Linked DNA regions of Homo sapiens: region 2 is linked to region 1. The links come from fine-mapping of genetic effects on gene expression. A gene starts in region 1. The other region holds a variant in brackets. All regions are shown on one strand. Distances are between the middles of the regions. Region 1 holds the start of COPS3 (COP9 signalosome subunit 3). Region 2 overlaps COPS3 (COP9 signalosome subunit 3).

Region 1 (16,494 bases):
GACAGATATAAGTTTTAATCCTAGTGCTGCCAGTACCTGGCTGTGTATCTTTGGCCAAATCCCTTAATCTTTCTGAGCATCAGTTTCTGAAGGATGGGAGATAAACATTGTGTCAGATGACAGGCTAGGTTATGTTGCAATACCAATGCCAAAATCTCAGTGCCTTAACAATGGTTTATTTCCTACTCATTGTGGTAGGCGGCCTCTAAAATGGCTCCCAGAATCGCTTGAACCTGGGAGGCAGAGGTTGCAGTGAGCCAAGATTGTGCCACTGCACTCCAGCCTGGGTGATAGAGCAAGACTCAGTCTCAAAATAAAGAAATAGCTGGGCTCATGCCTGTAATCCTGGCACTTTGGGAGGCCAAGGCGGGCAGATCACCTGAGATCAGGAGTTCGAGACCAGCCTGACCAACATGGAGAAACCCCATCTCTACTAAAAATACAAAATTAGCCGGGAGTGGTGGCGCATGCCTGTAATCCCAGATACTCGGGAGGCTGAGACAAGAGAATCGCTTGAACCTGGGAGGCAGAGGTTGCGGTGAGCCGAGATCGCTCCATCGCACTCCAGCCTGGGCAACAAAAGCAAAAACTCTGTAAATAAATATGGTGGCTCACGCCTGTAATCCCAGCACTTTGGGAGGCCGAGGTGGGCGGATTATGAGGTCAGGCGATCGAGACCATCCTAGCTAATATGGTGAAACCCCGTCTCTACTAAAAATACAAAAAAAAAAAAAAAATTAGCCAGGCAGGGTGGCATGCACCTGTAGTCCCAGCTACTCAGGAAGCTAAGGCAGGAGAATCATTTGAACCCGGGAGGTGGAGGTTACAGTGAGCCGAGATTGTGCCACTGCACTCCAGCCTGGGTGACAGAGCGAGACACCATCTCAAAAATAAATAAATAAATAAACAAACAAAGAAAACAAAAAATAAGATAAAATGACTCCCAATAAACCCTGCCTCCTGACACGCTGTTGGAACATCCCTGCTCTTGAGTATCAGCTACACCTAGCAACTCACTTCTAATGGATACACTATGGCAAAAGGGATGGGACATTAATTCCAAGATTAGGTTACAAAAAGCCTATGACTTTAGCATTACTTCTCTTCCCTTTCCCATCCCCTTCAGCATCCTCCTCCCCCTCCCCCTCCCCCACTCCTCCCCTCTCCTATTTTCTCTTTCTCTGAGAATCCATCTGCCGTGTTCTGAGCTCCTTTATGGAGAAGCCCATGTGGCAAGCAACTGAGCAAGGCCCCTGGCCAATAGCCAGCAAGCAACTGAGGTCCTCAGTCAAGCAGCCTATGAGTAGCTGAATCATTCCAGCGACCATGTAAATGAACTTGGAAACAGACTATTTCCAGTGAGCTTTCTGATGAGACCACAGCCCTAGATAATACCCAATTGCTGTCTTGTGTGAGACCTTGAGGGAGAGGCAGCCAGCTAAGCCATGGCAGAATTCCTGAAACACAGAAATTGTGACATAATAACTGAGAAATAAAAAATGTTAAGCTTCTATGTTTGGGGGTAATTTGTTTTACTTTATATATATACATATAAAATAAAACAAATATATATATAGAATAAAACATGTATATATATACACAAATATATATAAAATAAAACACATATATATACACAAACAGACACACATACACATTTCCAGTGTGGGTTCAGAAGGGTGGTTGGTGGCTTGCCCATCCTATCCTGGTGCCCTGACACTTAAAGCTCCCACCCAAAAGTCAAACATGCCACTTCTACTTGTGTTTCAGTGGCCAAATAAAGTCACATAGTGATAACAAAATTCTAAGGGTGTGAAAGGAAAATAAATGGAATATTTGTGAAAAGCCTGGAGGATTCTACAATAGCACCTGCCTGGAAGGATTATTGTGGAGACAAGGCCTACAAACTGCTCTAGAGCCAGGCACGGTAATTCACACCTGTAATCCCAGCACTTTGGGAGGCGGAGGCAGGCAGATCACTTGAGGCCAGGAGTTTGAGACCAGCCTGGCCAAAATGGCAAAACTCTGTCTCTACTAAAAATACAAAAATTGGCTGGGCAGCTAGGCGCAGTGGCTCACGCCTGTAATCCCAGCACTTTGGGAAGTCCAAGGCGGGCGGATCACGAGGTCAGGAGATCGAGACCATCCTGGCTAACACGGTGAAACCCCGTTTCTACTAAAAATGCAAAAAAAATTAGCCGGGCTTGGTGGCGGGCGCCTGTAGTCCCAACTACTCGGGAGGCTGAGGCAGGAGAATGGCGTGAACCCAAGAGGCGGAGCTTGCAGTGAGCCGAGATCGCGCCACTGCACTCCAGCCTGGGCGACAGAACAAGCCTCCGTCTCAAAAAAAAAAAAAAAAAAAAAAAAAAAAATTGGCTGGGCATGGTGACTCACACCTGTAATCCCAGCACTTTGGGAGGCCGAGGTGGGCAGACTGACTGCAGTCAGGAGTTTGAGACCAGTCTGGCCAACATGGTGAAACCCCGTCTCTACTAAAAATAAAAAAAGAAATTAGCCAGGCATGGTGGTGTGTGCCTGTAATCCCAGCTACTTAGGAGGCTGAGGCAGGGGAATTGCTTGAACCAGGGAGGTGGAGGTTGCAGTGAGCCAAGATCGTGCCACTGCACTCCAGCCTGGGTGACAGAGCAAGACTCCATCTCAAAATAAATAAATAAATAAATAGAAATGGAGAATGTGGAAGGTGTTTACAACAGTGCCTGACACTGTTCCTGCCCCTCCCCAAGTGCTATCTACTATTCCTTTTTTACAAGTTATCACTTGAAAAAATTTGTAGACATTACTGAATCCGAAAATGTTTTGCATTTGAAAATCTGGACAAATCTGAGATTGCTATAGACAAGCATTTCTCAAGGGAGACATACCAGGATCCTCCTCACTCCCTATATTCTAGCTGCACTGGCATTTTTTTCTTTTCCTGAAACACACCAAGCTTGTTTGGATTTTAAGACCTTTGCCCACCATGCATATCCCTCTGTCTCCAACTCTGGCCCCACATCTCTCTTAACTGGCTCTTTCTCATCCTTGAGGGCTCAAAGAAGCATTTCCTGACCTTCCTATACCCCCATCGCCATGCTTTATTTTCTTCATAACACATATTACTATCCAAATTATGTATTTGCTTGCTTATTGTTTTACTCTCCAAACCAGAACTTCATGTGACCCGGGACATTCTGTCTTGTTCACAGACATATTCCCAGCATCTGGCAAAGCCTTGACACATATTTGATACAAAGTAAATGTGTGTTCAAAGAATAAAAGAACAAAAGATTAAATGTATCATATCCACCCACTGCTGAGCCATCCTTCCTTGTGAGGCATTCTCAAGTAATTGCCAGATTTTACAAAATTCTGGCTTAAAAAAAACTACAGGTGAGAGGGCTGGGCCCGGTGGCTTACGCCTGTAATACCAGCACTTTGGGAGGCTGAGGCAGGTGGATCACGAGGTCAGGAGATCGAGACCATCTTATCTAACACAGTGAAACCCCGTCTCTACTAAAAATACAAAAAAAAAAATTAGCCAGGCATGGTAGGGGGGACCTGTAGTCCCAGCTACTCGGGAGGCTGAGGCAGGAGAATGACATGAACCCAGGAGGCGGAGCTTGCAGTGAGCCCAGATTGCGCCACTGCACTCCAGCCTGGGCGACAGAACGAGACTCCATCTCAAAAGAAAAAAAAAATACGAGTTAGAGGCCAGGCACAGTGGCTCATCCCTGTAATTCCAGCACTTTGGGAGGCCGAGGTGGGCGGATCACCTGAGCTCAGGAGTTTGAGACCAGCCTGGCCAACATGGTGAAACCCCATCTCTACTAAAAATACAAAAATTAGCCAGGCATGGTGGCACACACCTGTAATCCCAGCTACTTGGGAGGCTGAGGCAGGAGAATCACTTGAACCTGGAAGGTAGAGATTGAGATGAGCCAAGATCACTCCACTGCACTCCAGCCTGGGTGACAGCGAGACTCTGTATAAAAAAACAAAACAAGGCCGGGCACGGTGGCTCACGCCTGTAATCCCAGCACTTTGGGAGGCCGAGGCAGGCAGATCATGAGGTCAGGAGATCGAGACCATCCTGGCTAACACGGTGAAACCCCGTCTCTAATAAAAATACAAAAAATTAGTCGAGTGTGGTGGCAGGCGCCTGTAGTCCCAGCTACTTGGGAGGCTGAGGCAGCAGGATGGCGTGAACCCGGGAGGCAGAGCTTGCAGTGAGCCAAGATAGCGCCACTGCAGTCCAGCCTGGGCGAAAGAGTGAGACTCCGTCTCAAAAAAAAAAAAAAAAAAAAAAAAAACAAGTTAGAATATATTCAGGTTTATCCCTATAATCACGTCTCTTTCAGTCATTTGTTTTTGAGAGGAAAGAGAAGGGTGGAATTTAGCTGTTTTGAATTTAGCTTTTAGCTGTTTTGAAATGTTATTTGCATGCTGGCTCATCTGGAGGCCACGGTCCAGATGCTCTCAGAATTTAGCACCATCAGAATTACCTGCAGGCTTGTTAAGCTCAGATTTCTGGAAATCACCGTTTTTTTTTTTTCGAGACAGGGTCTCACTCTCTCACCGAGACTGGAGCGCAGTGGCATGATTTCAGCTCACCACAACCCCCACCTCCCAGGCTCAAGCGATTCTCCTGCCTCAGACTCCCAAGTAGCTGGGATTACAGGTGTGCACCACTACCGCCTGGCTAATTTTTATATAGGCGTGAGGGTCCGTGCCCAGTTTCAGAGCTCTTGATATAGGAAGTCTACAGTGGGGTCCAAGAATGTGCATTTCCAAGAAGATCCCAAATGACGCTGACGCTGCTGATTGGTGGAGTCACAGTTTGAGAGCAGCTGCCACAACCTAAATAGGCAATAATAAATAAACAATCAAAGTATTATTAGTAGCTGTGGCTACTTTGAATTATTGTAGTGCTTTACTTATCTTCAACATTTTTGGCTTTCACCAAAATCCATGTATATCCATGGAAATGTGTCCCATAAGTCAAAATGTCTGTCTTGTGTGTTGCAAATGATCAAAGATTAAGGACCAATTGCTTCCATAGAACATTCAGGAGCATTTCCATCTTAGAGTACAAGTGCTACAGTCATTCATCTAAACATGTCTCAAGTTCACCAATTTATCCTGGTGAATTTATCTACACTTTCGAAAGAACTATTATTATTACTATTTATTTGAAAGAAACAGGGTCTTACTCTGTCACCCAGGCTGGGGTGCAGTGGCGAGATCATAGCTCATTGCAGCCTTAAATTCCTGGGCTTAAGTGGTCCTCCCACCTCTGCCTCCAGAGTAGCTGAGACAATAGGCATGCACCACCACAACCAGCTAGTTTTTAAAATTTTTTTTGTAGAGACAAAGTCACGCTGTGTTGTCTAGGCTGGTCTCGAACTCCTGGTAAGAGTAAAACTATTAGCATTCAAGGTATAATTATTTAAAGTATAATTATTACTATTCTATTTTATGTTGACTATTGCAATAGCTTCCTGTCTCCCAAGTTATCCATGTGAAGCCAGACAAATCTTTTTAAAATGCAATTTTTGTTGTTGTTGTTTTGTTTTTTGAAGTTGAGTCTCTTTTTATTGTCCAGTCTGGAGTGCAGTGGCCTGATCTCAGCTCACTGCAACCTCCACCTCCCTGGTTCAAGCGATTCTCCTGCCTCAGCTCCTGAGTAGCTGGGATTACAAGCACACGCCACCACACCCGGCTATTTTTTGTATTTTTACTAGAGACAGGATTTCATCTTTCTGGCCAGGCTGCTCTTGAACTCCTGACCTCGTGATCCACCCACCTCAGCCTCTCAAAGTGCTGGGATTACAGGCGTGAGCCACCACGCCCGGTCCTAAAACGCAAATTTGATCCTGCCACCGCTTGCATAAAACTCTCCAGTCCTCCCAATCTTCTCAGGAAAAAGTCCAGTACCTTTAACACAGCTTACATGACCTGGCCCCTGTCCACCTTACAAACTACTCCCCTCCAACCACAAGGACATTCTTTCAGTTCTTCATTCTCAACTAGCATGCTCCTTTCACTTGCAGGGTCTTAGCACCATACTGTCCTCTCACTCAGAAATATTCCTTCCCCCTTATCTTATTAACTCTTCCTCTTTCTTCGTTGCTCAGTTTATGCCATTTCCTCAAGAAAGCCTTCCCTGTTTCTCCCAAGCCAGGTCAATCTCCTCTGTGACATGATTTTATAGAACCATGTTCCATTCCTTCAGACCACTAACTCCTTTTATCTAGGGTCTTCATGTGTTGTCTGCAGGAGAGAAGGACCGAAACTGTTTTGTTTTGTTTTGTTTTGTTTGAGTCAGATTCTTGCTCTGTCGCCCATGCTGGAGTGCAGTGGTGCCATCTCGGCTCACTGCAACCTCCACTTCCCGGGTTCAAGAGGTTTTCCCATCTCAGCCTCCCGAGTAGTTGGGACTACAGGTACCCATCACCAAGCCCAGCTAATTTTTGTAGTATTTTTAGTAGAGATGGCTTTTCACCATGTTGGCCAGGCTGGTGTCCAACCCCTGACCTCAAGTGATCCACTTGCTTCAGTCTCCCAAAGTGCTGGATTACAAGCGTGAGAGACTGCACCAGGCCCCAAGACTGTTTTTACTACCACTGTATTTCTAGTGCCTGGTACAACACATTGTAAGTGTCAGTAAACATATGTTGGATAAAATTTTAAAATGCATGTTTATTTTCTCAGTCCCTACTATGCAGCAAATCCTATGCTGGGCCCTAAAGGGGAACCAAGGTTAGTAAGAGAAATGCTTGACCTTAAGGAACTCCATGCCAGTTAGAAGCAATGGATCCGTAAACCAAAAGTATCTGAGACCAGTCTCAATCGAGAAAGTTTATATTGCCAAGGTGAAGGATGCGATGATAACACGGCCTCAGGAGCTCCTCAGGACATGTGCCCAAGGTGCGGGTACAGTTTGGTTTTATACATTTTAGGGAGACATGAGTCATCGATCAATACATGTAAGATGTACGTTGGTTAGGATCGGAAAGACGGGCTAACTCGGGGCAGTGGGGGGCTTCTACCTTATAGGTAGACTTAAAGATTTTTTGATTGGTAATTGGTTGAAAGAGTTATTATCTAAAGACCTGGAAGTAAATAGAAAGAAATATCTGGGTTATGATTATAAGGGGTTGTGGAGACCAAGGTTTTATCATGCAGATGAGGCTTCCAGGTAGCCTGCTATTCAGACAGAATAGATTGTAAATATTTCTTATCAGTCTTGAGTCTACCAGTCTTAAGGTCTCTGTGTTGATGTTTGTGAGGCATGTCTGACTACCACTTCCCATCATGGCCTGAACTAGTTTTTCAGGATAAATTGGAATGTCCTTGGCTTCAGATAGGGTCCACCAGTCAGTTGGGGGGCTTAGACTTTTATTTTTGGTTTACAGATATCACATGGACTATAGAGACACATTTCTGTAACAGAGTAGAAGTGCAACATGAGAAGAACAAAGTGCTTTAGGCGACAAGCGGAGGAGGGAGACATCAATCCCAGATGGGAAAAATCAATTCACTTTCTGTGTGTGGTGTTACTTATTTATTTATTTTTTGCAGGGAAGGGATCGATTCATTCAACGTACACCTTGAATGAATAACTATAGTTCTCCCTACGTCCTATGCACTGTCCTAAGTGTTTTACGTGGTTAAGGACACTAAGATTTTACAGATGGGGAAAACAATGCACACGACAGTCAAGTGACCCGCTCAACGTCACACAGCTACTAAGTGGTAGAAAAGGCAGTTGAACCCAGGCTGCTTGGCTCCAGAGTCTAATATCACGGGGAAAACCTCACGGGAGACGTGGCAACGAAGTTGTGCTTCATTGAAGTATCTGTCCAGGTGGAAAACCGCAGGGCCTCTCTAGCAAAATCCAGAACCAGAAAATACTTGCTTAATTATGAGTTTCCTTCCTTCTTTTGCCCACTATCCCCATTTAACCTGCGGAGGGATTTCAGAAGTGCAGTGAATAAAGATGCAGGGGACTATGGAACACTAATTTCCGGCTACGGCGAATTCAGGCTGTTTCCATGGAAACAGTAACGGGTGGGCAGCTAGGTATAGTCTCGCGGTGCTTGAACCAGCGGAAGTGACGTCGCCGCTCGCGAGGACCTCAGGTGGATCGCCGCGGCCCCTCCTCCCAGAGCGGCAGCCTTTTCCCGCGCGTGCTGCCTTCGCCGCTCGGGCCGCCCGGGGGAAAACATGGCGTCTGCCCTGGAGCAGTTCGTGAACAGTGTCCGACAGCTCTCAGCTCAAGGTAACGCCCTAGGCCGCCGGGCTGGGCATGGGCGGGTACCGGGAACTGGCCTGGATCCCCAGGCGCCAGCACGGACGGCTGGAACAGCCCTTTTAGTCCTGAGACTCTTCTCCGGGGCCGGGCTTGGGGTTGCGGCGTTTAGATCAGGGCAGGATCGAGCGCGGCCGAGTGTAGGCAGCCCCCTCGCGCTCCGCTGTCCTCGCCGGCCGGCCTCCCCTCCCTCGGGCCGCCGGGAGCCCCCTCCCCCCGGCCTGGGCCCCTTCCACCGGGCGCTTTGCTTGACAGTTTGGGGGCGTGACTTCCGCCAGGAGCCATCTCGGGCGACTATTGGTTCCTTCTGTCTCTCTTGCCTTCGGTGATTGGCGCACCGCCATGTCATCTTTGCCGCCGATCCGCAGCTTGCTGACTAGGCCGCCGGGAGCGGGCGGGAGGCGAGTCCGTTCTGGGTGTCTTGGCTCTATGGCTCGCCTCTGCCAGCTCCTCCGCTGCCAGGCGGCGCACGCTCGGGAACCTGTGCGCCTATTTTGGTCCTACAGAATGCTGCGGAAGCTCTCGCTCGTAGGACTCCATTTCTTCTTCTTTGTTTTTTTTTAGCCGAGGCTGGAGTGCAGTGGCGCGATCTCGGCTCACTGCAACCTCAGCCTCCCGGCTTCAAGCGATTCTCCTGTCTCAGCCTCCCGAGTAGCTGAGATTACAGGCGCCCGCCAGCTCACACGGCTTTTTTTTTTTTTGAGACGGAGTCTCACTGTCTCCCAGGCTGGAGTGCAGTGGCGCGGTCTCGGCTCACCTCAACCTTCGCCTTCGAGGTTCAAGCGATTCTCCTGTCTCAGCCTCCCGAGTAGCTGGGATTACAGGCGCCTGCCCGGCTAATTTTTGTATTTTTAGTAGAGACAGGGTTTCACCATGTTGGCCTGGCTGGTCTCGAACCTTGATCTCAGGTGATCCACTGGCCTCGGCCTCCCAAAGTGCTGGGATTACAGGCATGAGCCACCGCGGCCAGCCCACGCGGCTAATTTTTTCGTATTTTTAATAGAGATGGGGTTTTTACCATGTTGGCCAAGCTGGTTTCGAACTCCTCACCTGAAGTGATCCGCCCACCTCGGCCTCCCAAAGTGCTAGGATTACAGGCGTGAGCCACTGCGCCCGGCCAGGACTCCATTTCTAGGGGTAGAATTGTGATGATTTTACTCGCACTTTCCAGGTTGTTTGGTTCATTCATTGCGTATGAATGTACCGAATTCTGGACCTGAAATTCGAATGATTAGATGCTGGCTGTGAAGGCCCTTTTAACTATCCCGTGCTTCAGTTTCTTCGTCTGCAAAATAAGTCCCTAGTTTATGTAGAGTTGTGAAGATTCAATGAGAGAAACCATGTAAAAGCAGTTGGAACAGTGCCTGTCATAAGGGGTGCAATAAATATAGCTGCAAATTATTGTTACCGTCATTAATTGCAAAGTTCTAGGAGCTGCTTGACCTTGGACAAATAACCTTTAATCTCTGAGTCTTTTGCATCTCCATTGTAAAAATGGAGGGGTGCTTTTACCTCACTGGTGTAAGACAAATGGTCTGATATGGAGCTGCACTTAATAAGAATTCTTCCTCTTTTTCCTTTTTATTAATAGAAATGAGGTTCACAGGGAAGGCACAGGCTTGCCTTTTCTATGAATAAAGGAACCACTGGTTTGTTAATTTATTCGACAAATACTTAGTGTTCTCCTTCCTGGGGTGTAGTGTAGTTAGAAGCTTCAGGTTGAAATCCTGTCGCGGTCACTTCTTGGGTGAACCACTTAATTTCCCTGGGCCAATTTTCTTAATTACAAAACAGAACTAGGGCTGTTGTGGTCTTCAGGTTATAGGATGCTATAGGAACAGTCTGCTAGACAGAGATAAATATGGTAACTTTCATTGCTGTCGGCTACTGTGCCTCACACTCACTGGATAGGAAATCTTTGAGTTTCAGGCCAGGCGCAGTGGCTCACTCCTGTAATTCCAGCACTTTGGGAGGCCGAGGCGGGCGGATCATCTGAGGTCAGGAGTTCAAGACCACCCTGGCCAACATGGTGAAACCCTGTCTCTACTAAAAATGCAAAATTAGCCAGGCATGGTGGCGGGCGCCTGTAATCTCAGCTACTCGGGAGGCTGAGGCAGGAGAATGGCATGAACCTGGGAGGTGGAGCTTGCAGTGAGCCAAGATCGCGCCACTGCCCTCCAGTCTGGGTGACAGAGCAAGACTCCGTCTCAAAAAAAAAAAAAAGAAAAAAAAGAATTTTATTGGCCACATCTCTGGTTACACTGATTTCAAATGCACTCTGTGACACTTAAACTTTTTTTTTTTACTCTGCCCTTGGCCCTGCACTAATTAATTATCTGGTGATTTCATAGTGACCCAGCTTTTATTTCAGTCTCAACTGGGCACTGATTGTTAACTAGTAGAGAACTAATGGATTGCAATGCTTATTTCTGGGTGTTACAAATTATTGTTAATATATTTAGAGTAATGGTTTACAAAGGCAAATTATTCAACTAGAAGTTACTTCATACCTACCAGTGAGATCTGTAATACAATGATGATGAGTTGGTATTTCCCAGTTAAATCTGTGTGATCTCAAGAGGTGACACCTAATAAGATCACAGCTGTTTTATTCTTGTTTTGTAATGCATGTATAATAATGATACATTTCCTTTGCTTTCAGTAAAATGTATCAAATTGAAAAGTGTTAAATTATCAAAAGTACCTAGCTATAGTCACTTGTATTTTAAGCATTATACTATGTTGTATTCTTTTAGTAAGGAAAAGATTATGCAGTTGCTCTGTAGAAATAGAGAAGTTGGAAACTTGAGGTTAATGCCCATGGACTTAAATATATCCTCACTGTTACCAGAAAGACAGAGTGTGACCATGGTATCTGTCATGACAGTAATTGTCAAAATTGATGGGTCTACTTAAAGGTACCAATTCAGGCCTAATTTTTTTTTTCCCCCGAAACGGAGTCTTGCTCTGTTGCCCAGGCTGGAGTACAGTGGCGCAATCTCAGCTCACTGCAGCCTCCATCTCCCGGGTTCAAGGATTGTCCCAGGTTAAAGGATTCTCCCACCTCAGCCTCCCGAGTAGCTGGGATTACAGGTGTGTGCCACCACACCCAGCTAATTTTTGTATTTTTAGTGGAGACAGGGTTTCACCATGTTGGCCAGCCTGGTCTTGAACTCCTGACCTCGAGATATCTGCCCACCTTATCCTCCCAAAGTGCTGGGATTACAGGTGTGAGCCAGCCTGGTCTTGAACTCCTGACCTCGAGAGATCTGCCCACCTTATCCTCCCAAAGTGCTGGGATTACAGGTGTGAGCCACAGCACCCGGCTGAGGCCTAATTATTAATAGATTCTGTACCTTAGTTGTTAAAATGTAGCATTGCAGGCTGAGTGTGGTGGCTCATGCCTCTAATCCCAGCACTTTGGGAGGCCAAGGTGGGAGGATTGCTTGAGCCCAGGAGTTAGAGACCAGACTGGGCAACATAGTGAGACCCCTGTCTCTGCAAAAAACTTAAAAAATAAGATGGGCATGGTGACGTACACCTGTAGTTCCAGCTACTCGGGAGGCTAAGGTGGGAGGATTGCTTGAGCCCAGGAGATGGAGGCTGCGTTGAGCTGTGATCACACCACTGCACTGCAGCCTGAGCGACAGAATGAGACCCTGTCTCAAAAAACAAAACAAAACAAACATAGTATTGCAGTATAGGGGAAAAATAGATCAATTAGGAGATTAATTCAACAAGTAGCTGCTTGATGAACTGCTAAGCAGGTGATGTATTCTAGAGCTGGAGAAAGGGACAATCCCTCCACCTGAGTTTACTGAAATACCTAACCACTACAGTCCCATGCGAGGCAGAGAGGGCAGATACCCAGCTTAGCCATGGGGAAGGGAGCTGAGATGAGGGTCTAGAGACGCCACAAGTTGATTGCTGAATGCTGGATGAGGCTCAGTCAGGTAGCAGAGGATGTGGGGGAGAAGGACAGAGAACAGCATGTGTAGAAGCATAAAGAGGAGAGAAGATAGAATGTTGATTTTCTGAGCTTGCTGTGATCGAAGAGTAGGTGTGTGAGGGGAAGTAGCAGGAGATAAGGCTGGAAAGGTAGCAGGGACCAGTTATTGAAGGGCCTTAGTTCAGGCTGAGGCGTTTGCACTTCTTAAAGTCATTGGAATAACTTGATTGAATGCACAGTTTATAGAACAGACAGTACTAATATGGAGTGCGGGTTGGAGGAGAGAAAGATCACAGTAGGCAGACCATTTAGAAGATTTATGATGTAGGCTGGGCGCGGTGGATCATGAGGTCAGGAGTTCAAGACCAGCCTGGCCAAGAAGGTGAAACCCCCGTCTCTACTAAAAATACAAAAAAATTAGCCAGGTGCAGTGGCAGGCGCCTGTAATCCCAGCTATTTGGGAGGCTGAGGCAGGAGAATTGCTTGAACTTGGAGGGCGGAGGTTGTAGTGAACCGAGATTGCGCCACTGCACTCCAGCCTGGGCGACACAGTGAAACTCCATCTTAAAAAAAAAAAAAAGATGTAGTCCAGACAAAAAATGATGAGGATCTGAATTAGGGCAGAGAGGGGAGAGAGAAAGAAATGGAGCTGAGAGACTTTGGAAGTAAAACTAAATCATTTGGATGCAGAGAGCTGTTAATAGTAACGTGCATTTCTGGCTTGGGAGACTAGAAAACAGAATAGAGAAAAAGGTGAAACATTCAGGGTCAGAGAGAAGTGGGAGGTCCAGTGTAATCTCTAATTCGTTTTGAGACCACGGACAGGTTGTTTCACTCCTCTGGTCCTTCTGGATCCTCATCCGAAGTGAAGGAGATTAAGAATCAATTTTGGGAACTTCAGGCTCTGAAGTACAAAGTTGTGGTTAGAGTTCCATCAGTTTGGTTAGTGCTGTAGCTGAAATGCAATAGTGTTGTTCCTGTTTTCCAGGGCAAATGACACAGCTTTGTGAACTGATCAACAAGAGTGGGGAACTCCTTGCGAAGAACTTATCCCATCTGGACACTGTGCTCGGGGCTCTGGATGTACAAGAACACTCCTTGGGCGTCCTTGCTGTTTTGTAAGGAGCATCTTCTTTTATAGTTCTGTGCTTGTTAAAATGGAACACTGTGCACTTCCTGGCTTTATTTTTATTTATTTATTTATATTTTTTGAGATGGAGTTTCGCTCTGTCACCCAGGCTGGAGTGCAGTGGCACATTCTTGGCACACTGCAAGCTCCGCCTCCCGGGTTCACTCCATTCTCTTGCCTCAGCCTCTTGAGTAGCTGGGACTACAGGCACTCGCCACCCGCCCCAGCTAATTTTTGTATTTTTAGTAGAGACAGGGTTTCACCATGTTAGCCAGGATGATCTCGATCTCCTGACCTCTTGGTCCGCCCACCTTGGCCTCCCAAAATGCTGGGATTACAGGCGTGAGCCACCACGCCCAGCCCTGGCTTTATTTTTATTTATTTATTTATTTTTTGGTGTAGAAAGTAAACCATTGTAAATAACATTGAGCTCTTTTGCAAAACTAAAGTTATGGCAGTTACAGTTTATTGATTCCAGCTAATAATTGCTTGTTATATTTTGTTCAACTTTATCATTTTTAAAAACTCTTTTATGTATCCGGGCATAAAGAGGTTGCAGTGAGCCAAGGTCGCGCCACTGTACTCTAGCCTGGGTGACAGAGCGAGACTGTCTCAAAAAAATAAAATCAGTTGTTGCAGCTGGGCACAGTGGCTCCCGCCTCTAATCCCAACATTTTGGGAGGCAGAGGCAGGTGGATCACTTGGGGCCAGGAGCTCCAGACCTGCCTGGCCAACTGGTGAAACCCTGTCTCTACTAATAAAAAAACTAGCCGGGTGTGTTGGCGCATGCCTGTAGTCCCAGCTACTCAGGTGGCTGAGGCATGAGAATTGCTTGAGCCTGGAAGGCAGAGGTTGCAGTGAGCCAAGATTGCACCACTGCACTCCAGCCTGGGCGACAGAGGGAGACTCTCTCAAAAAAAAAAAAAAAATCAGTTGTTGCTTTTCCTGCTTTGAGAACATACTAAGGGGGCCAAGAGTGAGAGCTATGGGCTGGCTGGAGGTGGGCAGCAGCTTAAGTTAAAGATGCTGCCACCAGCTGTGTGGTCTATCTGAGAATAACACTGACAGAACAACTGATAGGCAGGACAAGAGGAGTAGAGTGGTGAGAAGAGGGAGGACTCAGGTGATCCTTCCCAAGTAACTCAGACTGCCATGAGAAACACTCCAAGGAGGCACTGGTGATAGGTTTTAGGGGAGAAATCATGTAAACTTAGCACTATTAAGGCATTGGTTGTAAGTAAATTTCAAATTCTTTAAAAAAAAAAAAAAGCACGATTGAAATGTAATTTCAAGAAAAATTAGGCCAGACACAGTGGCTTACATCTGTAATCCCGGCACTTTGGGAGGCCAAGGCGGGTGGATCACAAGTTCAGGAGTTCAAGACCAGCCTGGCCAACATAGTGAGACCCTGTCTCTACTAAAAATACAAAAATTAGCCGGGTGTGGTGGCATGCACCTGTAGTCCCAGCTACTCGGGAGGCTGAGGCAGGAGAATGGCTTGAACCTGGGAGGCGGAGGTTGCAGTGAGCTGAGACAACGCCACTGCACTCCAGTCTGGGTGACAGAGTGTGAGACTCTGTCTCAAAAAAAAAAAAAAGAAAAGCTAATCATAATTTCTACTACATCTTTTGGTTTATCTGCTTCCATCTATACTGTATTATTTGACTTAACAATGTCACCATACATCTGTATTTACACTTTGTAATTATCAAGACATGTCAGAAACAATTTCATCTGGGGTTCACAATAGGTCAGTGAGGCATTGCGACTGCCAGTTTATAAATAAAAATATGAAGCTCAGGGCCCCACAACTCAAAATTGGAAGAATATGTAGATTCAAAACCAGGGTCCTCAGCCAGAAGCTCAGGGTTCTTTCCATACCTTATCTAACATATACAACGGTAAACACCTTATACCTTCAAAATGCATTCATGTCCATTACTCACCTGATATATATGTTTATGTGAGTTTATGTGTGTATAAAACATGCATGCTCTCTGTTCTTTCTTGAGATAGGGTCTTGATGTCACTCAGGCTGAAGTGCAGTGGTGCAAGCATAGCTCACTGTAGCCTCGACCTCCCAGGCTCAAGCAGTCCTCCCACTTTAGCCTCCTGGGTAGCTGGGACCACAGGCATGTGCCACCACACTCAGCTAACTTTTTTTCTTTTGGGGGGACAAGGTCTTGTTCTGTCACCCAGTCAGGAGTGCAGTGGCATGAGCACAGCTCACTGCAGCTTCAATCTCATGGACTCAAGTGATCTTCCAACCTCAGCCTCCTGAGTAGCCAGGACCACAGGTGTACACCACCACGCCCGCCTAATTTTTGTGTTTTTTTGTAAAGACAGGGTTTCATCACGTTTCCCAGGCTGGTCTTGAACTCCTGAGCTCAAGCAATCTGCCCATCTCAGCCTCCCAAAGTCCTGGGATTACAGGCATAAGCCACCATACCTGGCCACTTTTTTTTTCTGTAGAGATGGGGTCTTGCTATGTTTCCCAGGCTGGTCTCAAACAGAGCCTCCCAAAGTGCTAGGATTACAGGTGTGAGCCACTGTGCCCAGCATCTGCTCTTTCATATAAATAAGAAAATACAGACAGTAGAAATCCTTACCAGCACTGTCCAATAGAACTATCTGCAGTGGTGGAAATGTTACAAACCTGTGCTAAGACAAGGACATGTGACCACATGTGGCTACTGAGTACTTGAAACATGGCAAGTGCACCTGAATCTTTAATTTTAATTTAAATAGCTGCATATGGCTAGTGGCCACCATACTGCAGAGCATAACTCTAGATCCTTCCATTCTGACAAAGCTTCTTCTCTAAACTCTGCTCCGGACACATACCTTTGTCTCAGGAATCCCAGCGTAAGTGAAGCCAGACTCTCACTTTAAGTCAATTTCTTCTCAGTTTATTTATATCATTTCAAATGTCATGACAACCACAATATCCCAATTTATAATACTATAACATCAAGAGAAAAAGAATTCTACTGTCAAGTACACGGTTACAAGGAACCCCAATTAAAATAAGGTCTATTTAATTTGGTCTTAAATAGCTTAAATTTGTTTGAAGGGAATTCTAAGCAATGTTGCTTTGGATCTTTGATA
Region 2 (14,949 bases), 33 kb after region 1:
ATTATCCTGCCTCAGCCTCCTGAGCAGCTGGGATTACAGGTGCCTGCCACCATGCCTGGCAAATTTTTGCGTTTTTAGTAGAGGTGGAGTTTCATCATGTTGGCCAGGCTGGTCTGGAACTCTTGACCTCAATTGATCCACCCACCTCGGCCTCCCAAAGTGGTGGGATTACAGGTGTGAGCCACCACCCCTCGCCCATCAGTTTTAAGTCATCTACACAAATCTATTCTGTACATCAATGGGAAGAGCTCTGTACACTTTTTTTTTTGAAATAGAGTCTTGCTCTGTCGTCCAGGCTGGAGAGCAGTGGCGCAGTCTCAGCTCACTGCAACCTCCACCTCCTGGGTTCAAGCAATTCTCTGATTCTCTTGTCTCAGCCTCCCAAGTAGCTGGGACTACAGACGCATGCCACCACGCCTGGCTAATTCTTTTTTTGTTTTTTGTTTTTTGTTTTGAGACAGAGTCTCACTTTGTCACCCAGGCTGGAGTTCAGTGGCTCAGTCTCCACTCACTGCAACCTCCGCCTCCTGGGTTCAAGCGATTCTCCTGTCTCAGCCTCCCAAGTAGCTGGGACTACAGGCGTGCACCACCATACCAGCTAATTTTCTGTATTTTTAGTAGAGACAGGGTTTCACCATGTTAGCCAAGATGGTCTCAATCTCCTGGCCTCATGATCTGCCCACCTCAGCCTCCCAAAGTGCTGGGATTACAGACATGAGCCACCACGCCTGGCCGCTCTGTACACATTTAATAAAATGTCCTTCCTTCGTTGTTCCTACCTGTGACTAATTCTGCTTCTGACTTTCAGACCTTTTTAACTCTATCATTACAAGATATGGCAAGTCGTGTGCAGTTGTCTGGACCTCAGGAGGCAGAGAAATACGTTCTGCACATGGTAAGTGGATTTTCTTTTTCTTTTTCTTTTTTTTTTTTTTTTTTCTTTTTGAGATGGAGTCTCGCTCTGTCACCAGGCTGGAGTGTAGTGGCACAGTCTTGGCTCACTGCAACCTCCACCTCCCGGATTCAAGTGATTCTCTTGCCTCAGCCTCCCGAGAGCTGGGACTACAGGCATGCGCCACCATGCCCGGCTAAATTTTTGTATTTTTAGTAGAGATGGGGTTTCACCATGTTGGTCAGGCTGGTCTCAAACTCCTGACCACGTGATCTGCCCGCCTCGGGCTCCCAAAGTGCTGGGATTATAGGCATGAGCCACCGTGCCTGGCCTTGATTTTCATTTTTTTGAAAATTAATTACTGGATTTTTGTTACTGTAAGAGTAACAGATGTTCATTGTGGAAAATATTAAAAAGGAGAAAAGCGGGGGGAGCCTCCAAAGTCTACCACTATTGACAATTTGGTCTGTTTCCTTATAGTTTCTAGTTTTAGTGTGCTCATATGATATACACATCAGGCTTGCGTCCTATTTGTGCTTCCTTTTTTTTTTTTTTTGAGATGGCTTCATCTTGTTGCCCAGGCTGGTGTGCAGTGGTGCAATCTCGGCTCACTGCAGCCTCAATTCCCTGGGTTTAAGTAATCCACCCACCTCAGCCTCCCAAGTAGCTGGGACTACAGGCATGTATGTGTCACCATGCCTGACTAATTTTTGTATTTTTTTGAAGAGATGGGGTTTCTCCATGTTGCCCAGGCTGGATTTGAACTCCTAGGCTCAATCTGCCCTCCTAGGCCTCCCAAATTGTTGGGATTACATACGTGAGCCACTGTGCCCAGCCCTGTACTCCTTATTATTTTCTTTTATTTTATTTTGAGGCGGACTCTCGCTTTGTTGCCCAGGCTGGAGTGCAGTGGTGTGATCTTAGCTCACTGCAACCCCCACCTCCAGGGTTCAAACAATTCTCCTGTCTCAGCCTCCCGAGTAGCTGGTATTACAGGCGGCTATATTTACATATTTTCATTATCAGAATTTTTGTAAACCTCATAACCCTCATGAAATATTTTTGGTATACAAAGAGGTATAAGGTAGGGCTACTTCCTCTGCTTATCTGTGATGAGATCACAAGCTTTTGCCAGTACGTACATCAAGCAACTGCTGCAGCAAGAAATCTTGCTGAACAATGTTTGCTGAACTACACAGTGTGCTTAGCGACATCATTGACTGACATTCTGACTTAGCCTCTTCCGTCACTGAGGGTTTTGGTCCATAAGCAGCACTGACATAAAGGAGGCCAGAGCACACACCCAGGACTTAGCATCCAGCTTAGGAAATGAAATAGCACCAGTGCCCTGACACTCCCTCTTTATCACCTGCCAGTTGCATTTCCCCACTCTCAGCCCCACCCCAACCAGGCAACCACTCCTGATTTGGATAAGCATCATTTAAATGACTATATGATAACCCACCACATTGATGTATTGTAATCTACCTACCTATTCAGTTACATAAGTACATAGTTCTGATCTGGTTTTAGTTCACTGAAAACCTGTGTCCTTAGCTCAGGACAGGCAAAGCTTCATATGACCCCTTGTATGATTTCAGAATTTGGAGTATTTTGATTGATTGATTGATTGATTGAGACAAGGTCTTCCTGTGTTGCCCAGGCTGGAGTGCAGTGGCGTAATCATGGCTCACTGCAGCCTTGACTGCCTAGGCTTAAATGATCCTCTCACCTCAGCCTCCCAAGTAGCTGTGACTACAGATGTGTGCCACCACACCCAGCTAATTTTTAAATTTTTTGTACAGGCAGGGTCTCTTTATGTTGGCCAGGCATAACTTGAGATTTCTGGCCTCAAGTGACCTTCCCACCTTGGCCTCCCAAAGTGCTGGGATTACAGCTGGATACAGCCACTGCACCCAGCTGAGTATTTCATTTTGATAGTTGAATTTACAAGTGTTCTAAAGGGTTTTTTGCTTCAACCTACCATTCAAAACATGCACACACCAAACAAAACCATACCTCTATGACTTGTGTCTGCTAAGAGCATCTTGGTAACCCCACAGGGGTTACACAGAATAAGCTATAGACGCTTTCCCCAAGAAATTCCCTCTTCAGTGGCGAGTGAGAAGAAATACATGAGTGGTTATGACACCAGACAGGACATACTAGCTAGCAACGCGTTGCGGGGTCAAAGTGGGTGTGAGTTTTGAGCCCTGCTTAACCAGCCCAGACACCCTGACAGGCTCTGGAGCAGTGGTTCTCCTCTGAGGGTGATTTTGTCTGCCAGGAGACATTAGGCAACGTCTGGAAGCAGTTTTGGTTTTCACAGATGGGGGTGCTACTGGCGTCTAATGGGTACGGGCCAGGGATGCTGCTAAACGTCCTGCAGTGCCCAGGACAGCCCACACACCAAAGCGTTATCTGTACCCAGGACAGCCCACACACCAAAGCGTTATCTGTACCCAGGACAGCCCACACACCAAAGCGTTATCTGTACCCTGGACAGCCCACACACCAAAGCGTTATCTGCCCCCAAATGTCAGGACTGCCAGGCTTGAGAAACCCTTCTGGAATGAAAGGTCTGTGAGACCAGGGTTTTTTTTTGTTTGTTTGTTTTTTAAAGTAAACATTGGAAAAGTACACTTAAGTGTACGGCTAAACACATTTTCACAAAGATTCCAACACCTAGAAGAAGGAACAGAATATGACCAGCACCCGGAAAATATCCCTTGTGTCTGCTTCCAGCCCTGTGCCTCTCTAGAAAGGTTGTTCCCATCCTGACTTTTTTTTTTTGAGACGGAGTCTTGCTCTGTCACCCAGGCTGGAGTGCAGTGGTGCGATCTCAGCTCACTGCAAGCTCCACCTCCCAGGTTCACGCCATTCTCCTGCCTCAGCCTCCCGAGTAGCTGGGACTACAGGCGCCCACCACTACGCCTGGCTAATTTTTTGTATTTTTAGTAGAGACGGGGTTTCACCATGTTAGCCAGGATGGTCTTGATCTCCTGACCTCGGCCTCCCAAAGTGCTGGGATTACAGGCATGAGCCACCGTGCCCGGCCTCCCATCCTGACTTCTAACATCCTATTTTAGTTCTGTTTGTTTCTGAGTTTGATGTAGAAGGAAACACACAGCACATTCTTTCTGGGAATCTGGTTTTTTGGCTCAGCATTGTGAGAGTCATGCATGATGCTGTATGTAGCCGTAGTTCATTCGTTTTCAGGGCTACAATGTTCCAGTGTTTGATACACCTTTCCATTTTAATTAGTTGGACAGGCTGGGCGTGGTGCCTGTAATCTCAGCACTTTGGGAGGCTGAGGCAGGCAGCTCACCTGAGGTCAGGAGTTCAAGACCAGCCTGGCCAACATGGTGAAACCCCGTCTCTACTAAAAATACAAAAAAAATTAGCTAGGCATGATGGCGGGCGCCTGTAATCCCAGCTACTTGGGAGGCTGAGGCTGGAGAATCGCTCAAACCCAGGAGGCGGAGGTTGCAGTGACTGGAGATCACACCATTGCACTCCAGCCTGGGTGACAAGAGCGAAACTCCGTCTCCAAAAAAATAAATAAATAGGCCGGGTATGGTGGCTCACACCTGTAATTCCAGCACTTTGGGAGGCTGAGGCGGGCAGATCATGAGGTCAGGAGATCGAGAGCATCCTGGCTAACATAGTGAAACCCCGTCTCTACTAAAAGTACAAAAAATTAGCCAGGCGTGGTGGCAGATGCCTGTAGTCCCAGCTACTCGGGAGGCTGAGGCAGGAGAATGGCATGAACCTGGGAGGTGGAGCTTGCAGTGAGCTGAGATTGCGCCACTGCACTCCAGCCTGGGCAACAGTGCAAGACTCTTGTCTCAAATAATGTAAATAAATAAATAGTTAGACATTGGGGTTGTTTCCAGTTCTGGTTAATTTATTATGAATAGTGCTGCTGTGGTGAAGGTAGGTCCAAATTTTGCTTAGATACATTCCATCTGCTTAAAGAGGCAGCTCTCTGTGATCACATAGAGAACTATGCATTTTGTATAATATGTATTGGGCTGGTTACTGTTTCACTAAATAGCATCTATCCCTTCCAAAGCTAGAGACAAGTAGGCCAGCAGTTTCACTGCTAACAAATGGACAAGTTATTATCACCGTGTGGAACATCTTGTTAGGAATAAAATACCTGTTTTGTACTTTTATTGGTATCTCACTTTTTAACTTCATGGGCAGGATTTGGCTTTGAGGATCAGTCAAATAATTCCCCAGTAACTGATGCAAATAAATAATATATAGACCTTGAATCTACCTTGGAATCCCCAGTGGTAGTAAAGTTTTCTTGAAGAATCGGAAGATAGTTTCCACTGGGATGAAAAGAAAACGTGTTAGGCTTTACTTTTTAAAATACAGTGGCCCAGCCTGGCCAACATGGCAAAACGTCATCTCTACTAAAAATAAAAAAAATTAGCTGGGCATCGTGGCACATACCTGTAGTCCCAGCTACTTAGGAGGCCGAGGCAGGAGAATCCCCTGAACCCAGGAGGTGGAGGTTGCAGTGAGCAGAGATCAAGCCACTGCACTCCAGCCTGGGCAACAGAGCGAGACCCCATCTCAAAAAAAAAAAAAAAAAAGGCGATGTAAGTTATATTTCAGTGCAGCTGATGTTGAAAAATGCAAGGGCACCTCAAATACATCATGCTAAGGGAAGCCAGACCACAAAAGATTACATAGTATATGATTCCATTCATATATCCAGAAAAGGCAAATCCATACGAGACAAGAACAGATTGGTGGTTTCCAGGGGCTGGGAGGAGAAGGAGGGAATGGGGAGGGACTGCTAATGGGCCTAGGGCCTCTTTCTGGGGTGACGAAAATGCTCCAGAACTAGATAGAGATGGTGGTGGCACAACATTGTAGAATGCATTAAATGCCAATTAATTGCTCACTTTAAAAAGGTAGGCCAGATGTGGTGGCCCATGCCTGTAATCCCAGCATTTTGGGAGGCCGAGGCAGGTAGATCACTTGAGGTTAAGAGTTCGAAACCAGCCTGGCCAACATGGTGAAACCCCGTGTTTATTAAAAATACAAAAAAATGGCTGGGCGCGGTGGCTTACGCCTGTAATCCCAGCACTTTGGGAAGCCGAGGCGGATGGCTCACCTAAAGTCGGGAGTTGGAGACCAGCCTGACCAACATGGAGAAACCCTGTCTCTACTAAAAATACAAAATTAGCCAGGCGTGGTGGTGCATGCCTGTAATGCTAGCTACTTAGGAGGCTGAAGCAGGAGAATTGCTTGAACTCAGGAGGCGGAGGTTGCAGTGAGCCGAGATTGTGCCATTACACTCCAGCCTGGGCAACAAGAGCGAAACGCCATCTCAAAAAAAACAACAAAAAAATTAGCCTGGTGTGGTGGCGGGCACCTGTAATCCCAGTTACTTGGGAGGCTGAGGCAGGAGAATTGCTTGAACCCCGGAGGTAGAGGTTGCAGTGAGCCAAGAACGCACCACTGCACTCCAGCCTGGGGGACAGCGAGACTCCATCTCAAATAAATAAATAAATAAATAAATAAAATGGTTAATTATGTTGTGTGGACTTCACCTCAATAACAAAAATGCAAGGGCAGGGATTTTGTGTGTATCAGTTTTACACCTCTTAGCATCTATAATGGTGCCTAGCAAATAGTAGGTATTTAATAAATACTTGGATAAACAGATGGCGCTTAAAAATATACAAGTTTATTTATATCCATGTTGCCTTCCATGCTTTTCTGTGATTATACTGGATGACTATTCATATAGCATTCAGGTCTAAACTGCTTTCCTGATTTTTTTTTTTTTCTTTCTGCAGATAGAAGATGGTGAGATTTTTGCAAGTATTAACCAGAAGGACGGTATGGTCAGTTTCCATGATAACCCTGAAAAATATAATAACCCAGCCATGCTTCATAACATTGATCAGGAGGTAAACATGAATGCCAGGTTTTTATTTTTTTAATTGATGGTTGAGATGTATTTGAAAATTGCTCCTATGTTCCAGGATAATTTTAGTTTTAAGTACAGGTAGTTCCCAGTCTGTGAACATCTTAGTTACTAGAAAGTTAGTTTCAAAATGGGCTGCTTAAGGAGAATTGCTTGAACCCTGGAGACGGGTTACAGTGAGCCGAGATTGTGCCACTGTCCTCCACCTTGGGTGACAGAGCAAGACTCTGTCTCAAGAAAAGCAGCAACAACAACAAAAGAAACCCAGAATGGGCTGCTTAAAACTCTTCCAGGCTGGGTGTGGTGGCTCATGCCTGTAATCCCAACACTTTGGGAGGCTGAAGTGGGTGGATCAGCTGAGGTCAGGAGTTCAAGACCAGCCTGCCCAACATGGCAAAACCCCGTCTCTACTAAAAAAAATAAAAAATCAGCCGGGTGTGGTGGTGCACGCCTGTAATCCCAGCTACTCTGGAGGCTGAGGCAGGAAAGTCTCTTAGAACCTGGGAGGCAGATGTTACAGTAAGCTGAGATTGCGCCACTGCACTCCAGCCTGGGCAACAGAGGGAGACTCTGTCTCAAAAAAACAAAACTCTCTCAGATTGTATGGCTGTAAATAAATGGTGGGTTAGATATCCCAGCTAACTCATCAAAACCTCCCTTAACTGTGAAAACACTTAAAGGGCCCAGTATAACTTTATCTATTCCCAGCTGCCACCTACAACATAGAGCCTTATGTTTTTGCTGAAATGTCTGTGGAGTTCCAGGTTGGGAGGTTAGGAAACATCTCTCCCTATGTGAGAAGCAGAGTCGGGGTGGCTGGAGGAGAAGAGCAAAGCCCTCCCTGACGGTCCCCTTTAGGCAACAGCCTGGCTACAGCTGCAGCAGTCACCTCTGTGTCTCCTGAGGGCATGCTGCCTCTGATTCTGGGGGCTGAAGGGGGAGTTTTGTGGGTGGTCTGTGTTTCTTACCTCTGAGCAGGGAAGTGAACTGAATATTAAATCTCAGAAAACTATGTTTTTTTGTAATTAATTTAATGGCAAAATGTCACCTGAAATGGTGTCTAGTCTTCATTTATCTCAGCATGAATATACTCGTTTCACTGCAAAAGATACTATGTGTTTGATTATGAGGTTTGCCTAGATCCTGCTGGGTGGGATATTTGGTATTATATGATAGATGTATTAGCTTTCTGAGTCCAAAATACTCTGGCTCCAAAACCCATGTGGCCCCAGGGGTTTCACATCAAGAGATTGTGAACCTATAGCACCCTTGTGAACAGTGTAAGTTAGAAAGGATGCAGCTGACCTAAACCCGCCGCTGACCACCTTCTAATGTGCCTGTCATGCAGATGCTGAAGTGCATTGAGCTGGATGAGCGGCTGAAAGCCATGGACCAGGAGATCACAGTGAACCCTCAGTTTGTACAAAAGGTGATGAGGGTTCCCTTATTACAAGAAGTAGGCTGGGTGGAGAAGGAGGGGTGTTGTCACATCAGGCACAGGAACTAAGTTTCAGGTTATTAAATATTTCTTGAAAACCTTACCAGTACGGTCATGGAGAAATACTAGTTGAGAGCATTTTCAAATGATGGCCTGGAAGTACACTTAGGGATGCTTAGGGTGGTTCCTGGAATTGCCTGCCCTTGTTCACAGGGGGCTTTGTTCTGGGAGGGACAGGGCAACTGGTGTGCTTATTGGGCTGCCGGGGAACCCTTGATAAAAGCAAACATAAATACATAACTTCACTTTACCTTTACAGAGTATGGGCTCACAAGAAGATGATTCAGGAAACAAACCATCCAGTTATTCTTGAAACTAACATCCATCCTGAGCTAAACAAGAGAAACTACCATCTTGGCCAGTGACAAGTGTTCGGAGGGCAGCAGAGAGGACCAAGCCTGTGTCACCTGGAGACTAAGAAATTAAGTTTTGTTTTGACATCTTCAGTCCTGTGTGCTTTCAGAAAACCATTTTCTCTGCAAAGAAAGGAAACAGATTTGCAAACTTTAAAGTCTGTCGTGGATTTATTTATCCTCAGATTATTGTTACTGCATTAAATCTACCTTTTTGTTTTAAGTTGCTTGAACATTAATGTGTCTTCTGTATCACTTTTTTCTCCTCTGAAGTTTTTAATAAGCACATTCATTGTGAACAGAAATAGCTGGATTTTAGGAATTTTTGGAAGATTTGGATCTGAAAGGTTTTTATTTATTGACAAATTTGTATCTACAAAAAAATCTAAAAGTTGTAATCATTGTCTTCAGAAAATAAAAGAAAAGAAAGGCCAGACAGACACAGTGGCTCACACCTGTAATATCCTAGCACTTTGGGAGGCCGAGGCAGGATTGCTTGAGGCCAGGAATTCAGACCACCTTGGCCAACATAGTGAGACCCTGTCTCTGTTTACAAAAAAAAAAAAGGGTAGGAGCGTCCCTGAGGCATAAGCTAATTTTTAAAATTAAAATTAACATGCATATTAGTGAGAGTATGAGTTGTGGATTATGAGATGCCATTGGTGCTTCACTTTTTTTTCTTTTTTTTTTTAAGAGACAGGGTCTCTGTCACCCAGGCTGCAGTGCAATGGTGCCATCATGGCTTACCTAAACTTCCCAGGCTCAGCTGATTCTCCTACCTCAGCTTCCTAAGTAGCTGGGACTACAGGCGAGCACCACCACAGCCAGCCTTTTTTTTTTTTTTTTTTTTTTGTAGAGATGGGGTTTTGCCATGTTGTCCAGGTGGTGTCAAAAGCACTTTCCAACCTTTAGTGGGTGCTACACTTTTGTAGTCTTGAAAATGGCTTTTCTCCCCCTCTCAACTTACAGTTTTTAAGAGACAAATGGCAGGCTTTCCCACTTTTTCTTGTCAAAGCATATCAGGTAAACTGATAGTTGCATTTTGATTATGTTCAGGGCCTCTCCTGTCACAGGAATTTGGACTAGGATTTACTGATTTAGCCCTGGAATGGTGTGGAGCAGAATAAAGTGTGGTCAGGTTAAAACACATCAAATTTGTTCCTTAAAAAAATCTCTCTCACTACAAACATTCAGTTTTTAAAATGTTTCAAGTTGTCTGGTAAGGCACATTTTCATTATTTAAAAAAGAAACCTCAGCTGTGTGCAGTGGCTTACGCCTGTAATCCCAGCACTTTGGGAGGCCAAGGCAGGTGATCACCTGGGTCAGTAGTTTGAGACCAGCCTGGGCAATATGGTGAAACACCATCTCTACTAAAAATACAAAAAATGAGCCGGGCATGGTGGTGGGTGCCCGTAATTTCAGCTACTCAGGAGGCTGAGGCAGGAGAATCGCTTGAACCCGGGAGGTGGAGGTTGCAGTGAGCCAAGATCATGCCACTGCAATCCAGCCTGGGTGACAAGAGCAAGACTCTATTAAAAAAAAAAGAAAAGAAAAGAAACCTCATGAGTCACATAAAAAGTTACCCTAATAGAGTCCACACTTAGGCTTTGGAGGTCATATGGCCTATTGTAACTGTGGCCATTTTAGTAGTAAAACTTTATTTATAAAAAGTAGGCAGTGGCCAGGCATGGTGGCTCATGCCTGTAATCCCAGCACTTTGGGAGGCCAAGGCGGGTGGATCACCTGAGGTCAGGAGTTTGAGACCAGCATGACCAACATGGTGAAACAGTCTCTACTAAAAATACAAACATTAGCTGGGTGTGGTGGCAGGCGCCTGTAATCTCAGCTACTCAGGAGGCTGAGACAGGAGAATCGCTTGAACCCGGGAGGTGGAGGTTGTGGTGAGCCAAGATCATGCCATTGCACTCCAGCCTGGGCGACAACAGCAAAACTCCATCTCAAAAAAAAAAAAAAAAAAAAAAGGTAGGCAGCAGGCTAGGTCTGACCTGAAGCCTATAGTTTGCTGACCTATCAACTAAACTGTCAAATTCTCTAGCCCTTGAATTAGGACTATTTGTGGGTTGCATCCCTTTCACTTGTTTACGTATACCTGCACTTAGGAAACAAAATATTTAATGGGAAATGATCATTTATCTGTGTAATGAATTATAGACCCTGTTTTATTTTTAAAAAACAATTAGCTTCTCATTATCTGGATCTGAAATCAAAATCACTTAGAATGTGTCTGTGAACTGCTAGTACTTGTCAGTCGTGACTATATAAGTGAAAAGTACTGTGAGCTGCTAATGATGTGGATGCTATTATAATTTTTTACCCAAGGTGGATTCATTAAAATAACTGCATTTTTTGGAAACTTGAACTGAAAGGGGATATGTTATTTAGAACCTTGTCCTAGTACCTGCAAACCCTGAGTCTGTTTGAGGGGAGAGCTGGTCACAATCGTTTCAGCTTTGAATCCCCTGTTCTGTGTTCTGCTTTGTGATTCTTGGGCTAGACCTCTGCAAACCAGCAAGAAGGGGATTAGAGCTCGGGGGAGAAAGTGACAGGCTCCCTGCATCTGCCTCTGTTGAGCAGCATGGTCCAGGCAAGTCTGCTTCCAGTGTGCAGTTTCCCCCATGCTCCTAGAATCAGCCTCAGCACAGCCCCTTAGAGATAAAGGGGCCCAGGAGGCAGGCCTCCCCCATCTTCCCACTGTGCCCTCCTTCAGAATTTTAAATTCTATTC[G/A]TCCCAATCTTTTCCCTTTGTTCCCCAACCCTTAAGGGGTGGTATCTGCTCACTGTAGCTACTACCTCAGTGAGACTCCTGAATTTTTTTTTTTGAGATGGAGTCTCCTCTGTAGCCCAGGGTGGAGTGAAGTGGTGTGATCTCAGCTCACTGCAACCTCCACCTCCTGGTTTAAGCAATTCTCCTGCCTCAGCCTCCCTAGTAGCTGGGATTACAGGCACCCACCACCACGTCTAGCTAACTTTTGCATTTTACTAGAGACAGGGTTTTGCCATGTTGGCCTGGCCAGGCTCAAACTCCTGACCTCAAGCAATCCACCCACCTTGGCCTCCCAAAGTGCTGGGCTCACAGGCGTTAAGCCACCGCACCCAGCCGATTTTTTTTGTTTCTTTTACAGCAGTACTTTTATTTTTCCTTACACAATGACGTGTTGCTGGGGCCTGATGTTCTCACATAACAGTAAAAAAACAAAATGTGTTGTCATCTCAAAGAATTGAGAATTGAGTACAAGAAAACCCTACATAAATTAAAGGGATGAATACATTTACAGGTGGAAATACGAACTGCTTCCAACTCAAGACAAGTAGCAGCTCATGGTGTTCTGGCATGAAAACATCAGCTAAGAGAGGAAACTTGGTCCTATGGCTTGGACTTTTCCAACCCTGATAGACCGGCAAGACAGAAACAATTGGTTCAGGAGCCCTTACCAGGCTCTACAGCAGAACACTCTGCCCTGACACATTAATACACTGCACAGATCGGAGACTGCTGGCCACACAGACTCACCAAACCACTGACCTGTCTTCCACAAGCCAGTTCTTACCTCAGCCACGAAGTGACCAAGCCACACGTACTAAGGGTTGAAATCAAAGATGTATAGGGCATTACACAAATACCAAGGAGAACAGTTAACTTGAATACAAGGTCAAAATCAGCAACAAGTTTTACAATCCAGTGCTGATATCAGATACAAACCTTAAGGACAAACTTCTTTCAAAGGCTTATTCCAGTTTCGTGAGGCTAGTATGAGGTGTATGCATTTGCCAGGGGCAAATTTTTTTTTTTCTTTTGAGACGGAGTTTCGCTCTGTTGCCCAGGCTGGAGTGCAGTGGCACAATCTTGTCTCACTGCAAGCTCCACCTCTCAGGTTCACACCATTCTTCTGCCTCAGCCTCCCGAGTAGCTGGGACTACAGGCACCCTCTACCACGCCCGGCTAATTTTTTTGTATTTTTAGTAGAGATGGGGTTTCACCGTGCTAGCCAGGATGGTCTTGATCTCCTGACCTTGTGATCTGCCCACCTCGGCCTCCCAAAGTGCTGGGATTACAGGCGTGAGCCACCACGCCCGGCCTCCAAGGGCAAATTTATACTCTGGAATTAACCCATGCAGTAAATGCTACTCATCGGCTCACAGTCCGTTTAAAAGCGTTTGTGGTGGATGATGGAGGGGCCTGACTCATCTTACTCCTGCTTGCTGATCCACATCTGCTGGAAGGTAGACAGTGAGGCCAGGATGGAACTGCCGATCCACACTGAGTACCTGTGCTTGGGGCGGGGCACAATGATCTTGATCTTCGTGGTGCTGGGCACCAGGGCAGTGATCTCCTTCTGCATCCTGTCAGGATGCCCCAGTACATGGTGGTGCCGCCAGACAGCACGTGTTGGCATATAAGTCTTTGCAGATGTCCACATCACACTTCATGATGGAGTTGAAGGTGGTCTTGTGGATGCTGCAACATTCCATGCCCAGGAAGGAAGGCTGGAACAGTGCCTCCAGACACTGGAACTGCTTGTTGCCAATGGCGATGACCTGGCCATGGGCACCTCACAGCTATTCTCCAGGGAGGAGGAGGATGCGGCGGTGGCCATCTCCTGCTCGAAGGGCAACACAGCTTCTCCTTGTCATGCATGATCTCCCACTCGGCCGTGGTGATCAAGCTGTAGCCAAGCTTGGTGAGGATTTTCATGGGGTAGTCAGGTCCTGGCCAGCCAGGTCGACACAGGATGCCATGGGGGAGGGTATAGCCCTTGTAGATGGGCACCATGTGGGTGACCCCATCTCCAGAGTCCAGGACAATGCCAGTGGTGTGCCCAGAGGTGTAGAGGGACAGCATGGCCTGGATGGCCACGTACATGGCCCAGGTGTTAAAGGTCTCAAACATGATCTGAGTTATCTTCTCTCTGTTGACCTTGGGGTTCAGGGGGGCCTTGGTCAGCAGCACTAGGTGCTCCTCTGGGGCCACGTGCAGCTCACTGCAGAAGGTGTGGTGCCAGATCTTCTCCATGTCATCTGTATTAGTCCATTTTTGCACTGCTGATAAAGACACACCTGAGACTGGACAATTTACAAAAGAAAGAGGCCTAATGGACTTACAGTTCCAGGTGGCTGGGGAGGCCTCACAGTCATGGTGGGAGGCAAGTCACGTCTTACACGAATGGCAGCAGGCAAAGAGAGAGAGAGCTTGTGCAGGGAAACTCCCATTTTAAAAACCGTCAGATCGGCCAGGCACGGTGGCTCACGCCTGTAATCCCAGGACTTTGTTTGGGAGGCCGATGCAGGCAGATCATGACGTCAGGAAATCGAAACCATCCTAGCTAACATGGTAAAACCCTGTCTCTACTAAAAATATGAAAAATTAGCCAGGCGTAGTGGCACCTGCCTGTAGTCCCAGCTACTCGGGAGGCTGAGGCAGAAGAATCACTTGAATCCCGGAGGCGGAGCTTGCAGTGAGCCAAGATCGCACCACTGCGCTCCAGCCTGGGTGACAGAGCGAGACTCCATCTCAAAAAAAACAAAACAAAAAACACAAAACAAAATATGAAGTTTTGGGTTTGTAAGTCCTAAGTTTCTGGGTTCCAACCTGAATTGGTACCCACTTTGTGGAAGGTTATGTTATTTGGACCTAAGTCTGAGCAGTTGCAAAGGGGCCAGAGAAAATAAATGACTAGGTAAATCAGGTATCTGTGAATAAGAAAATGTGATGGCTATCTTTTTAAGTAACTGAATTACTTAATGATAGTGAACAAAGAAAATCCTATCTGTATCCTTTCCTAACATCAAAGGCTGAAATCAGAGAACTTTAATTGCAAAAAGCATTTAATAAGTCTGAATCCATAGGCTGGCTCTATAGTTGATTGTTAGACGAAAATGTCAACACATGGTATTTAATAGGCACCTAGTAGTAGATTAAAACACAAAAGGCATAGCAGATGAATTCTAATTAGTGGAGAGAGGTTAATTTTTAAAAGCTTACAGAAATTGCTATGGTAAGAAATATTAAATTAATCCTAATGGCCTTTATTGAACCACTAATAACTCATACCTCGCAACTGACTGGATGCCTTATGTGCAGAGTTGATTGTCTAATTACCTAAAACCTGAACTTAGAAACTGTGCATGGGCTAGGCTGGGCGCAGTGGCTCACGCCTGTAATCCCAGCACTTTGGGAGGCCGAGGCAGGCAGATCGAGAGCATCCTGGCTAACACAGTGAAACCCCGTCTCTAC

The links. PIP is the estimated chance that this variant, and not a neighbour inherited with it, causes the effect.
Region 2: its variant is fine-mapped to the expression of COPS3 in whole blood (INTERVAL, PIP 0.94).

The regions. Positions count from the first base shown.
Region 1 is chr17:17,272,916-17,289,409 of GRCh38, reverse strand. It overlaps COPS3 (COP9 signalosome subunit 3), which reads left to right and starts at 8,164. Exons shown (of 12, transcript NM_003653.4): 1 at 8,164-8,278; 2 at 13,246-13,375. The coding sequence starts at 8,224. RefSeq lists enhancers at 7,967-8,066, 8,717-8,776 and a silencer at 8,287-8,526.
Region 2 is chr17:17,240,805-17,255,753 of GRCh38, reverse strand. COPS3 (COP9 signalosome subunit 3) reads left to right here. Exons shown (of 12, transcript NM_003653.4): 9 at 809-895; 10 at 6,715-6,828; 11 at 8,194-8,274; 12 at 8,603-9,138. The coding sequence ends at 8,656. It also overlaps the pseudogene ACTG1P24. Among named protein-coding and RNA genes, the nearest start is that of FLCN, 11 kb to the right of the region's middle. RefSeq lists a silencer at 4,462-4,564. The variant G/A (reference allele first, on the strand shown) is at 11,443.